3 linked regions of the Homo sapiens genome follow. The protein of the gene in region 1 purifies or fractionates together with the protein of each later gene. This does not show direct contact. Each region holds a gene or a part of one and is shown in the gene's direction. Other genes may lie near its edges.

Evidence for each region.
Region 2: the proteins of ITK (region 1) and NSUN6 fractionate together in Homo sapiens (co-fractionation; one large-scale study listed by BioGRID). This does not show direct contact.
Region 3: the proteins of ITK (region 1) and IBTK purify together in Homo sapiens (affinity purification with western blotting, with the first as the bait; one study listed by BioGRID). This does not show direct contact.

What each region holds. Positions count from the first base shown.
Region 1 is NC_000005.10:157,179,514-157,183,781, forward strand, and holds the start of ITK (tyrosine-protein kinase ITK/TSK), read left to right. Parts: upstream 1-1,326; 5' UTR 1,327-1,464; coding exon 1,465-1,602; intron 1,603-4,268. UniProt on the Homo sapiens protein: Tyrosine kinase that plays an essential role in regulation of the adaptive immune response. Regulates the development, function and differentiation of conventional T-cells and nonconventional NKT-cells.
Region 2 is NC_000010.11:18,641,472-18,645,124, reverse strand, and holds part of NSUN6 (tRNA (cytosine(72)-C(5))-methyltransferase NSUN6), read left to right. Parts: intron 1-1,484; exon of another isoform or gene 1,485-1,556; intron 1,557-2,569; coding exon 2,570-2,649; intron 2,650-3,653. UniProt on the Homo sapiens protein: S-adenosyl-L-methionine-dependent methyltransferase that specifically methylates the C5 position of cytosine 72 in tRNA(Thr)(TGT) and tRNA(Cys)(GCA). In vitro also methylates tRNA(Thr)(AGT).
Region 3 is NC_000006.12:82,209,711-82,213,363, reverse strand, and holds part of IBTK (inhibitor of Bruton tyrosine kinase), read left to right. Parts: intron 1-570; coding exon 571-657; intron 658-1,791; coding exon 1,792-1,874; intron 1,875-1,959; coding exon 1,960-1,997; intron 1,998-2,453; coding exon 2,454-2,550; intron 2,551-3,653. UniProt on the Homo sapiens protein: Acts as an inhibitor of BTK tyrosine kinase activity, thereby playing a role in B-cell development. Down-regulates BTK kinase activity, leading to interference with BTK-mediated calcium mobilization and NF-kappa-B-driven transcription.

The sequences.
Region 1 (4,268 bases):
AGGGGATGACAGATCCCACTAAGGAAATTTCCTAGAAGTTGTGCACACGACTTCTGCTACATTCAGTTGACCAGAAGACAGTCATACAACTACACCTAGCTACAAGGGAGGCTAAAATTTGTAGTCTTTATTCTTGCTGGCCAGATGCCCAGATAACTGTCAGGGATTCTGTTACTCTAGTAAGAAGGAGAGAGTAGCTATTTGGGAATAGTAGCAATCCCTACCTCAAGCCCATACTCAGAAAAAAAAAATACTATCTTGTTTGGGCAGTGTATTTCCACACATATGTCTTAAGAATCTCAGAATGGGGGAGGTAATTTAAAATATACCAGTACCGTACCCTCCTGGGTGTCTTGATTATGCTGGGGCATCCAGTATATGAAATAAAATTAGGCTGTTGTCTGGTAATTTACATTTAAAAATAAACATTGGAGAATTTCACTCCTATACAGCAATAATTATTATTTCATTTATTATTTATCCCTACCCACTACATGCAATATCTGCTTACACTAAAATCTCTTGATTATTAACATAGTAGAGGTAACTGTCACACATTATACTTCAACTATGTACTAACTCTAAGGTGACATGTATGACTAGCACCTACCATTCATAAGATGTATGGGATTCAGTCCTCCAAAGGACCCTCACAAGGAAGCTAAGGATCAGAGAAGTCATGGCTTGCTCAAAGAGAAACAGCATAGTAAGTGACAGAGCTGGGAATCCAACACAAGTTTGTCTGTTTTCAAAGCCCACATATACTTTGTTTATTATGCCATTCTGAAGGATTCACTTATTTTTCACTCTTCCACAAAACGTCAGGACAGAAAGGCAGTCATCTATATGTAGCATTGAGAAATTTCTATGGGCTTTAATTTAAATCTTAAAAACTAATAAACTTCAGCAACATATTTCTTCACTTTAATGTGTGAGGGTTTTGTGCTCATTACCTCTTTTAATTGTCCAACCCAATTTGGTGATGATCCATTCAACAAATTTTTCTTGAACATCTGTTTTATGTGTCAGGTACTGTGATGGTTGCTGAGTATATCATGGTAAGCAAAACCACACATTGTCCTTACTCCTTGTGCTACATGATTTAACTGCTGGATGGATTAAACCAGGAACTATAAAGATTAAACTGTAATCCTTACCACAATTTTGAGTTTACAGTTTTTCAAATATCATTTCAAGCCATTAGCAAAGGCTGTATGTATTTTTTACATATGCCTCCTCGTTTTGTGAATTTTGAAAGGATGTGGTTTCGGCCTTTGACATCAGAGGAGAAGCTCAGCTATGTTGGCTGAACGTTGATAGAAAGATAACGTTGAAGGCAAGTTGCCCTTGAGCAGCTCTCTGAAGATCAACTGCCTCCACATTGCATTCTTTGCCCCAAAACTCTTTCCTTTGGTTGTGCTAAGAGGTGATGCCCAAGGTGCACCACCTTTCAAGAACTGGATCATGAACAACTTTATCCTCCTGGAAGAACAGCTCATCAAGAAATCCCAACAAAAGAGAAGAACTTCTCCCTCGAACTTTAAAGTCCGCTTCTTTGTGTTAACCAAAGCCAGCCTGGCATACTTTGAAGATCGTCATGGGGTATGTGAGCAGTTTCATTTGTCTTTTTTCGCATAGCATTTTATGTTTGGACTGGGCTAATGCAAAAATATATACATAGCATAAAATAGAGCACAGGAAACACAAACATGCTTATTGTAACAACATAAAAAGTACAGTAAAAGTAATCAGAGGAGAATGCAGAGAGCAGTCAAGAGGTGAAATGGTGGTGCTAGGTGATTTCAGTTCTAAAAACTGTAAATTTAACATTCATCAGCTTTTTCCCCCTGCAAGGTTATGTTTGGTTTTTAAATTATGAATAACATTTTAGGTAGCAAGTATTATGATTCGATAAAACTTGAACTTTCTATGAAACATACTAAATTTAATGAAACATACTAAATTTAATGAAACATAGATTAATACAACACTAGCATTCAATGGGATGATCTACCCCAGCTTTCTTATTTTTTAGTGGAAGAAACTGGTGTTTAGAATGGTTAAGTTTTGGGTTCAGTGTTAACGTTTTCATGAATAACTCTGTTTGTCTCAATACTCGTCGCTAGCCTGATCTTGAAATAAGATTTCCCAGGCATTTAATTATCTAAAAGTTGTAAGGCACAATGGCAAACCTCTTCATCTCTTGATAGACTTCTTAGGACACCAGGGTTATTAAGAACAAAGTTTCTGCAGTGCAGACCAGCGGTTCTTACCCAGAAGGAGTATGGCTGCTTTGCTAGGTCAGTCTATCTCTTTATCTAAAAATAGTCTTGTGCTTCTTAACATCACTAATAACAAAAGCAACAGGAATAATCCTAATAATGTAGTTTGGTAGAAAAAGCATTGGACAAAGGGTCAGGAGACCAAACTCTACTTCTCAGTAGGTGATCCAGTCTGGGCAAATGTCTACCTCCTGTTTCAGGTTCTTTCTTCATAAAATGAAAAAACTGGAAATAACAACCTTCAAGATCCCTTTCTTCTTCAAAACTTCTTTGCTTTATGCAGTGGCTCTTGTTTAGCCCTATGCTGCAATTTTTCAAAGCATGTTTGATTTCTTACTGTATGGTTATATTATTTTTACATCATTAGTGGGGTAGGACAAGGATTATCACTTATATTTTACTGAAGGGAAAATAATATTAGGTGCCTGATGGTCACTTAGAAACAAAAGTGCTCCAGTTCTTTGTTGGAGTCTGACTTAGTAGGTGGTGGCATGAGTTTGGGATTCTTTGGTGTGCCAGGGTTTAAAGCACTTCATGAGATGGAGCTCCAGAGGAGGTCAGGCTGGGTATAGAGCCTATGGATGCCTCACTTTTTAAAGTTGCAGGTGTTGCATGTCTTTTGTGAATTAAAAAAATACAGAAAACAAAAAAGTTGCAGGCGAAATAGCTCTGCCTCTTTAGAAGTGAAAAGAATTGCTTGTCTTATTATCAGACTCTTACTGATAACAATTTACCAGTCAATCAGAAAACACATGGAATTACGTGCAAGTCCTCTTTGCTAGGTGGCCAGGAGCCCAGTTTGTGAACTTGGGGGATTTATCATGTAGAGCTAATAAATCGCATGGCATTACTCAATGCTTTTTTGTGAATGGAACATTTAAAGTTTTTGTTTCATATTGAAAGAACAGTCATGTACCTTTAAATATTTTTTTCAAAGTCCATTTTGCAGTTTTCACCAGTTCGTTTTTCTGATTCAACATAGTATCATCTCATTTAGTTAGTATTAATAATTCCTTAGCCCAACTGCTATTTGTGAACTGATTGTGAATTCAGCTCAATATTATTTGTAAGTAATCACAAAACCAGATGGCCTTAATTCAGAATATTATTGGTCATAATTTGCATGTAGACAAGGTTGTAAAATCACCCTACTTCTTTATCTGAGCATTATGGAAAATTTCAAGACAATTACTTCATTCTGGGGAGCCCTAGGCTACAGTTTCTAATTCTTCCATGTGAGATATAGAGAATACATGTCCAAACATCAAATTTCTTGTTTTCTAATGCCTTTTTTACTCTTATAAATAACATTTTAAAAGTATTTCTTTAATTATTTAATTATTATAGAAGTTTATTAATTAGAAATTTATCCAAGTTCCCTGAAAAAGGTAATATATGTGAATTATTATTGTTCATGTCTTAGGTATACTACATGGTTTCAGGCCACCAATTTGCACACAAGGCTGCATTAATATTACTCATAAGTAAATAACATTACACTTATGGGAAGAACATTTTCATTTTTAAATTAAAGGCTTCATTTTCAATCTGTAAAATGGGTGTGATAATAGTACCCATTTCATAGGAAGATGGCAAAGACTCAGAGGTATAATGTCTTTAGGCTGAACTTTTTGAAATTATTTGGCAGATCGAATATCAGATATTAGAAGTTTCAAACAATTCAACTTAATATATTAGGTACTTAGCATAGGCCCTGTCATCTGGTAAGCATCTAGTAAAAATTAACCATTATTTGTATCCCTTTCATGTCTCTACAGAAGCTAGCAGGCTGTCATAACAATTCATTTTCAAATTATGGGAGATATTCAAGGATTCTTCAAAGTCAAGCTAAGATCAGGGTCCTGGATTCCTTCTATTCTGTGGCTAAATATAAGTTTTGTGGGGTAGATATACATGCATTATGAGCTGTTTGGCCAGTTATTGCCCCTCTTAGGGTGTCGGGTGTCAGAGCTTCTTTTTCTCTTT
Region 2 (3,653 bases), on another chromosome or scaffold:
GTGCAATGGCGCGATCTCAGCTCACTGCAACCTCTGCCTCCCAGGTTCAAGCAATTCTCCTGCCTCAGCCACCTGAGTAGCTGGGATTACAGGTGCGCTCAAAGACACCCAGCTAATTTTTGTATTTTTAGTAGAGACAGGGTTTCACTGTGTTGGCCAGGCTGGTCTCAAACCTCTAACCTCAGGTTATCCACCTGCTTCGGCCTCACAGAGTGCTGGGATTACAGGAGTGAGCCACCGTGCCTGACCTACACGTTTTCAGTTTTTTTTTTTTGTTTTTTTTTTGAGACGGAGTCTCGCTCTGTCGCCCAGGCTGGAGTGCAGTGGCGTGATCTTGGCTCACTGCAAGCTCCACCTCCTGGGTTCACGCCATTCTCCTGCCTCAGCCTCCCGAGTAGCTGGGACTACAGGCGCCCGCCACCACACCCGGCTAATTTTTTTTTTGTATTTTTAGTAGACACAGGGTTTCACCATGTTAGCCAGGATGGTCTCGATCTCCTGACCTCGTGATCCACCCGCCTCGGCCTCCCAAAGTGCTGGGATTACAGGCATGAGCCACTGCGCCCGGCCAACATTTTCTTGTACTTACTCATATGTAAGCACTTAACAGTAAAAAAAAAAAAGACATACCTTAATACAGTGAAAAAAATAATGTGTTCAGGGTAACTAAGCAGCACAGTAGCATCACCAGAGTACCTGAATTAGCTGTTCAACAACAACAAAAACACAATAGGCTGGATGAACTGTGTTGTGAGCCTGCATTTTGACTTTGACCAGTCTGGGTCAAGTATGGAATTTTCTACTTCTGGCATCATGTCAGCATTCAAAAAGTTTTGGATTTGTAACATTTCAGATTTTTAGACTAGGGATGCTTGGTTTGTATTCCATTTATGTGAAATGTCCAGAAAAAGGCACATTTATAGAGAAAGAAAGATAGTGGTTGCCTAGCAATGGGAACAGGGATTGACTGCCAGTGAGCGTGAAGGATCTTTGTGGGATGATGGAAATTGTCTAAAACTGGAGTACAGTTCTTTAAATTTACTAAAAATCATTGAATTGTACGTTTAAAATGGGTGAAATTTATGGTATGTAAATTATCTCAATAAGGCTGTTTTAAAATAGCATTGGGCAGAAACCAACATTAAAAGAAGCTGGTGATATACTTGGTTTGGAAAAAAACGTGTGTTATGAAGGGTATGTACATGTGTGGTTTTATGGGTTTTATTTATATATTAACATGCTTCTAATCGAAAGGGAGAGACAATGACCTTTGGCTTGAGAAGCTTTGATCTCTGTATAAGATATTTCTATAGTCTAAATCAAATGTTACTTATAAAACAAAACAAAAATCAAAGTTCATTATCTTCTCTTTGGCAAGATTTGTTCCCTATAATTGATACTGTAAGGCTATCAAAATGATGAAGGAGGGAGGGAAAGAGAAAGGAAGAAGGATTTGATTGATTGAGGTGGAATTTATCTTTCAGATTGCTTATTAGTTATCTGTTGGATAACTAGACCCTTTGGAAGAAGCAGAAGTTCAGAGAGCTGGTGACTTGGTAGATATGAAGTTTTATTTCTAAAATATGCACGATTATTTTCTGTTTCCTTATCAACTTAGAAATCAGTAAGTTGATCTCAGAAGTTTTCTGTAGATAGTGTATGAATCCTGTGGGGCAATGCAAACATGCATTGTGGTGATTGGTCTTTTATGTAGTATGTGAAAATGGAGTTGATAAACCCTAACCTACGAGGCAGACTTGTTGTCAGATATTTGCGTGCTGCCCTCTAATAGAGTATACGGTCCCTGTCATCCAGTCCCCTATGCAGCTGTTTTTTATTCTGTGTAGGGTGTCCAATTGTCTTCTGCTTGTGACAGTGGTATGCTGGTACATATTTAACAAACCCTTTCTGGGAAAAATAACCCCAATTTGTGGTGTTTGTTGATTTCTGTGGTATAAATACTCACCATGTTCCCTGGTAGCTACATGTGTGACCATGGAATTGGAAAGAGATGCATGCAGTGGCTCTCCTGAGCTGGTGTGAGCTGGCTCCCGCACCTGTACCTGCTTTCAGTGTGATAATCTTCTGGTTCCCTTATAATAGAGGATACTGAAAATCCCAAACCTCTACCATAAACATTTCTTTTCCTCACCAAAGCTGACATGGATGCCAGTGTTGATTGTGTATATTAGGTAGTATTTATCAATAGTAATCTCAGTCTTTAACATCTTATTCAGAAACTTTTCTTAAAGGAATACTACATGTAATTCTATATTAAATAAAAGTTTCTAAAGTAAATCATTTAGGGTAACCACGGTTTGTGTTTATAATGCCAAATAGTAAGCAAAATTGAGTCTTATAAGGAAGTTAGGATACTTCAGAATTAAAATAGAGAAAACATTGTTGTTTTGAGGTCTTTTGGATTTTTACAGTATCCCGTGGAATAAGGTGAAAATGCCCCAGAGCTACTAGGGCTTCATGCTGTGGTAGATGATGATACTGAAAAGTTCCATAAGTTGAAATGTATCAAATGTATGGATTACTTTATAATCATGTTTATCTTTAACAGCAGTTTAATGGATTAAGTGTTCCTATTCTTCAACATCCAGACCTTCAAGATGTGTTACTTATTCCTGTTATTGGACCCAGGTTTGTAAGAACTTCATTTCCAAATTATATTATTCTCAATAAAAGTTTGTCACAGGGAGCTTTTTAATTGTTCAGTGATAATACTAAGTTTCTCCATTGTTAGCAACTTTCTATAGATAACAGGAATTCAAAACTTCATAAATGCAGACTTTAGACTCTGTCATGGAAAATAATACAAAAGAAGGCTAGGAATGGGCCCAAGGATCTTGAGAATAATGCATTTTAGGTCCATTTAGTGCAGTGATGTTTTCCCCCCCCCACTTTCTGTGAAGTTTTATTTCATTTGTTTACTTGTATTTCATATGAATTTTCAGTGCTAAATTAAAACTCTTTTTTGAGCTGCAACAAAAATATAGAGTAACCTGTTTTCTACTTTCATAGCTGATATGTTTGTAAAATTTTATTTTTTGAGAAAGCGTCCTGCTCTGTTACCCAGGCTGGAGTGCAGGGACACAAGCATAGCTCATTGCAGGCTCGAACTTCTGGACTCAGGCAATTATACCACCTCAGCTTCTGAGTAGCTGGGACTACAGTTGCGCACCACTGCACCTGGCTAATTTATTTTTTATTTTGTAGAAACAGTCACACTATGTGTCCCAGGCTGGTATTGAAGTCCTAGCCTCAAACAATCCTCCCACCTTAGCCTCTCAAAGTATTGGGATTACTGATGTGAGCCACGTTGCCCAGCCTGTAAAATTTTATTCATAATTCAACAATTATGTTAAACTACTGTGTCCCATTTATGTTCTGCGCGTTTACGTATTTGGAAAGCATATGTTTGAAAATTGAAAAATAGGTTTCAGGCTGGATCTGGTGGCTTACTTATTCCTGTTATCCCAGCACTTTGGGAGGCTGAGGTAGGCGGATCCCTTGAGCCCAGGGGTTGGAGACCAGTCTGGGCAACATGGCAAAACCTTACCTCTAGTAAAAGAAATTACAAAAATTAGCTGGGTATGGTGGTGCTTACCTGTCGTCACGGCTATTCAGGAGGCTGAGGTGGAAGG
Region 3 (3,653 bases), on another chromosome or scaffold:
TGTGTATCGTGTTTCCTGTTTAAAAATAATGAAGGGGCCGGGCGCGGTGGCTCACGCCTGTAATCCCAGCACTTTGGGAGGCTGAGGTGGGCAGATCTCCTGAGGTCAGGAGTTTGAGACCAAGCTGGCCAACATGGCGAAACCCTGTCTCTACAAAAAATTACAAAAATTAGCCGGGAATGGTGGTGAATGCCTGTAGTCCCAGTTACTGGGTTGGCTGAGGCAGGAGATTCATGTGAACCTGGGAGGTGGAGGTTGCAGTGAACTAAGATCATGCCACCACACTCTAGCCTGGGCAACAGAGCGAGGCTTCGTCTCAAAAAAAAAAAAGGAAAAACTTTGTGCTATGGCTTTGATTTGTCTTTTGTCAGTAATGTTTAATCTATTTTGAATTCTAACTAAAATGGAAGAAAAAGTATGATATTTCTTTATCTCAGAGTAGGAGTTTGTTGAGATACTTTTCTAGGATACAGTATTATATTTAGATGTAAGCTAATTTGTTGGATTTTTTGTTGTATGTTTATTTTTGTAGGGGAATATCAATTGTTAATTTTTATCTATCCTTGATAGGTTAGATGGAGTCAGATTTGAAAATGAAAAAATTAATGTTATTGCCAAGAACACTGGTAATAAACTGAAGCTAAGTCAGAAAAAATGGTAAGTAAGGAAAGGAAGATTAACATTTCATGTCTGGATTTTGGCACTTAAGTGTGGAAATAGATCTCTGCTTACCCACATATGAAGCAAAATGTATAGGTAGATACCCTCTTACCTTTTCTAGTATTCTGCATTTCTGGAAATGTTGGGGAGCTGTTGAAGTAAATTGATAAAATATTAACTGCTGAAGACATCAAAGGAGTTTTTTCTTTCCGATGACTTTCTAATAGAGAGTGGAACTTTTAATTTTTATTTTTTCTTGCCTGAATTTTGTGCCTTGTTATAATTAGGAAATGTTATTAGCCCCCAAACCAATTAATTATACCTCTTCATCATTGTTATGATTATTGCCTTTAGTATAAAAAATTCTTAGTAATAAATATACTATTCTAAATATATTGTTAAAAAGTTTTGTTTTTAGGGCCTGGTGTGGTGGCTCACGCCTGTAATCTCAGCACTTTGGGGGGCCGAGGCAGGTGGATCACCTGAGGTCAAGAGCCTGATTAACATGGTGAAATCCTGTCTCTACGAAGAAAATACAAAAATTAGCCGGGCATAGTGGCGGGTGCCTGTGATCCCAGCCACTTGGGAGGCTGAGGCAGGAGAATCACTTGTACTCGGGAGGCGGAGGTTGCAGTGAGACAAGATTGCACCATTGCACTCCAGCCTGGGTGGCAGAACGAGACCCCGTTTCAAAGAAAAAAAAAGTTTTGTTTTTAGCTATTCATGCTTCCTCTGTAAGTGAAAAGGTTTTGGAGAAGGATAAACTGTGGAGTTGTTTCAACTGTGCTTGGCCCAGATTAGCTACTACAAATAAGTGAATTACAGAGACTTAAATATGATATCACTTAGTATTATATTATTAACAGTTTTTCTGGAATAAAAAAAAGGAAAATCAGAAAAATACTTTTTGAATATTTGTATTCGGCTCCCTTTTCAAATATTGTCTTTACTCTAAGGCCCTTATCTTCCCTGTGGTGGAAAAAGATGAAGTATTTTATTGTATGTATTCCTGCAAGTTATTTATTCTCTGCCACCTTTAAGAGAAAACTGAAAGTTAAGCCAAATCCTATAATCTTTTTCACTAAATATGTAAAGAAATTGCTCTTGCTTCAATTAAACATTTTCTTGCAGTTCATTTCTGTGTGACGTGACCATGAAATCAGTGGATGGAAAGGAATTTCCTTGTCATAAATGTGTTCTTTGTGCTAGACTTGGTAGGTGCACTTTTTAAAGCTGCTGATTTATTTGCTGTAGTATTGTTTCACTATTCTTATTGCATTGAACTTTTTTTTCTTTTAGAATATTTTCATAGTATGCTGAGTAGCTCATGGATTGAGGTAAGATTTAAGTAAAAAGCGCCTAGGTTGGTAACTATGTTTCTTTATATTTTGTGCAAAGTATGTAGTAAAGAAATTCAAAATCAGAACTGGATATTTTAGCTCAGTTTTTCATTTATATTAAACTTTATGCTTGAGGCTGCTGGAAAATAGCAACACTTAGAATTTAAAATTATTGCCAAGAAGCTACTTAAATAAAAATTTCCCCGTTATTATTTAGAAATGTATTAGGAACACCACTGTGTTTCTTGTTTTCTGAATTTTTTTGTTCCTTTTTCATGTTATGTTTTAAAATTAAATTTAATATTATTTTAGCCATGTGTTTTGTAAATTTTATGTTTTGCATTTGATGTGATTTCCTGTTCAGAGTGTTTTGTACCAATAACCCAAATTAGAATGTAATATTTTATTGTTTAGAATGAATTATTTTACTTTATTTTGTCTTATTTTATTTAGGCTTCCAGTTGTGCAGCTCTGGAAATGCCAATACATTCTGATATATTAAAAGTTATTTTGGACTACCTCTATACTGATGAAGCTGTGGTGATAAAAGGTATTAATAAGAGTTAGGACATTGTAGATACTTCACATATAATGGAATAATGGTAAAATCAACGTGAATCTTAATTTCTAATAGAAAAAAACCATCAATAAAGGCTTAATTTATTTTATTTTTAAAATATTTAATTTATTTTTTATTATTTATGGAGACCGGGGTCTTACTATGTTGCCCAGGCTAGTCTCAAACTCCTAGGCTCAAGGGATTATTCCACCTCGGCCTTCCAAAGTGCTAGGATTATAGCGTGAGCCACTATGCCTGGCCAATAAAGGCTTAATTTAGAATAAGCAATAGGAATGATTGCTAATAGTAAAGGAGCAGAAAAAGGTTTTCATTACCCATGTGAAAATGAACTCTTTGAGAATTAGTGCTTGCTTCGGCAGCAAGTATACTAAAACTGGAATGATACAGAGATTACATGGCCCCTGTACAAGAATGACACGCAAATTTGTGAAGCGTTTCATTAAAAAAAAAAAAAAAGGAATTGTAGGTAATGGTTGAAATTAGATTCAGCAGTTCAATTTCCAGCTACTTCTATGATGGAGATGAATGAATTGACAACAGGGATAGTTTTGACAAATACTTACATAAGTTCTTTCTTACCTGTTTTTCCCCTTTGTGGTTACACATCTTGAAAGAAACAGATTAAAAATTGTACCAAAATTTATGAAGAGAGGTCATTTATGTACTTTGTTAGGCAAAACAGTAACTTTTAGTTACAAGATATGTTTACTCATTGGAATGGTACTGGATGTTCTGTCATATTCCATTAGTTTTTTTTAACCCCAGCTGTATACTGGGGATAAAAATAAGTGGATAGACCTTTTTTTATATTCAAGAAACTCAATCTAGTGGAGAAGACAAATGTATAAGAAAACAAATATAATCCAACAGAGTAATTCTCTAAAAAGCAGATGCATTTTTAAGAAGCTAGCCTCTGAGTCTGCCTAGGAAATCTGGGTAGTCTTGTAAGGAGATAGAGTTTAACTGAGGACAAAATTTCTGAAGATTTGTATACTTGAGAGTAAGATAACTGAGACATGGTATGTTTTTCTCTACTTTCATTCTTTTTAAAAATCGAGAAATTATTTGCATGA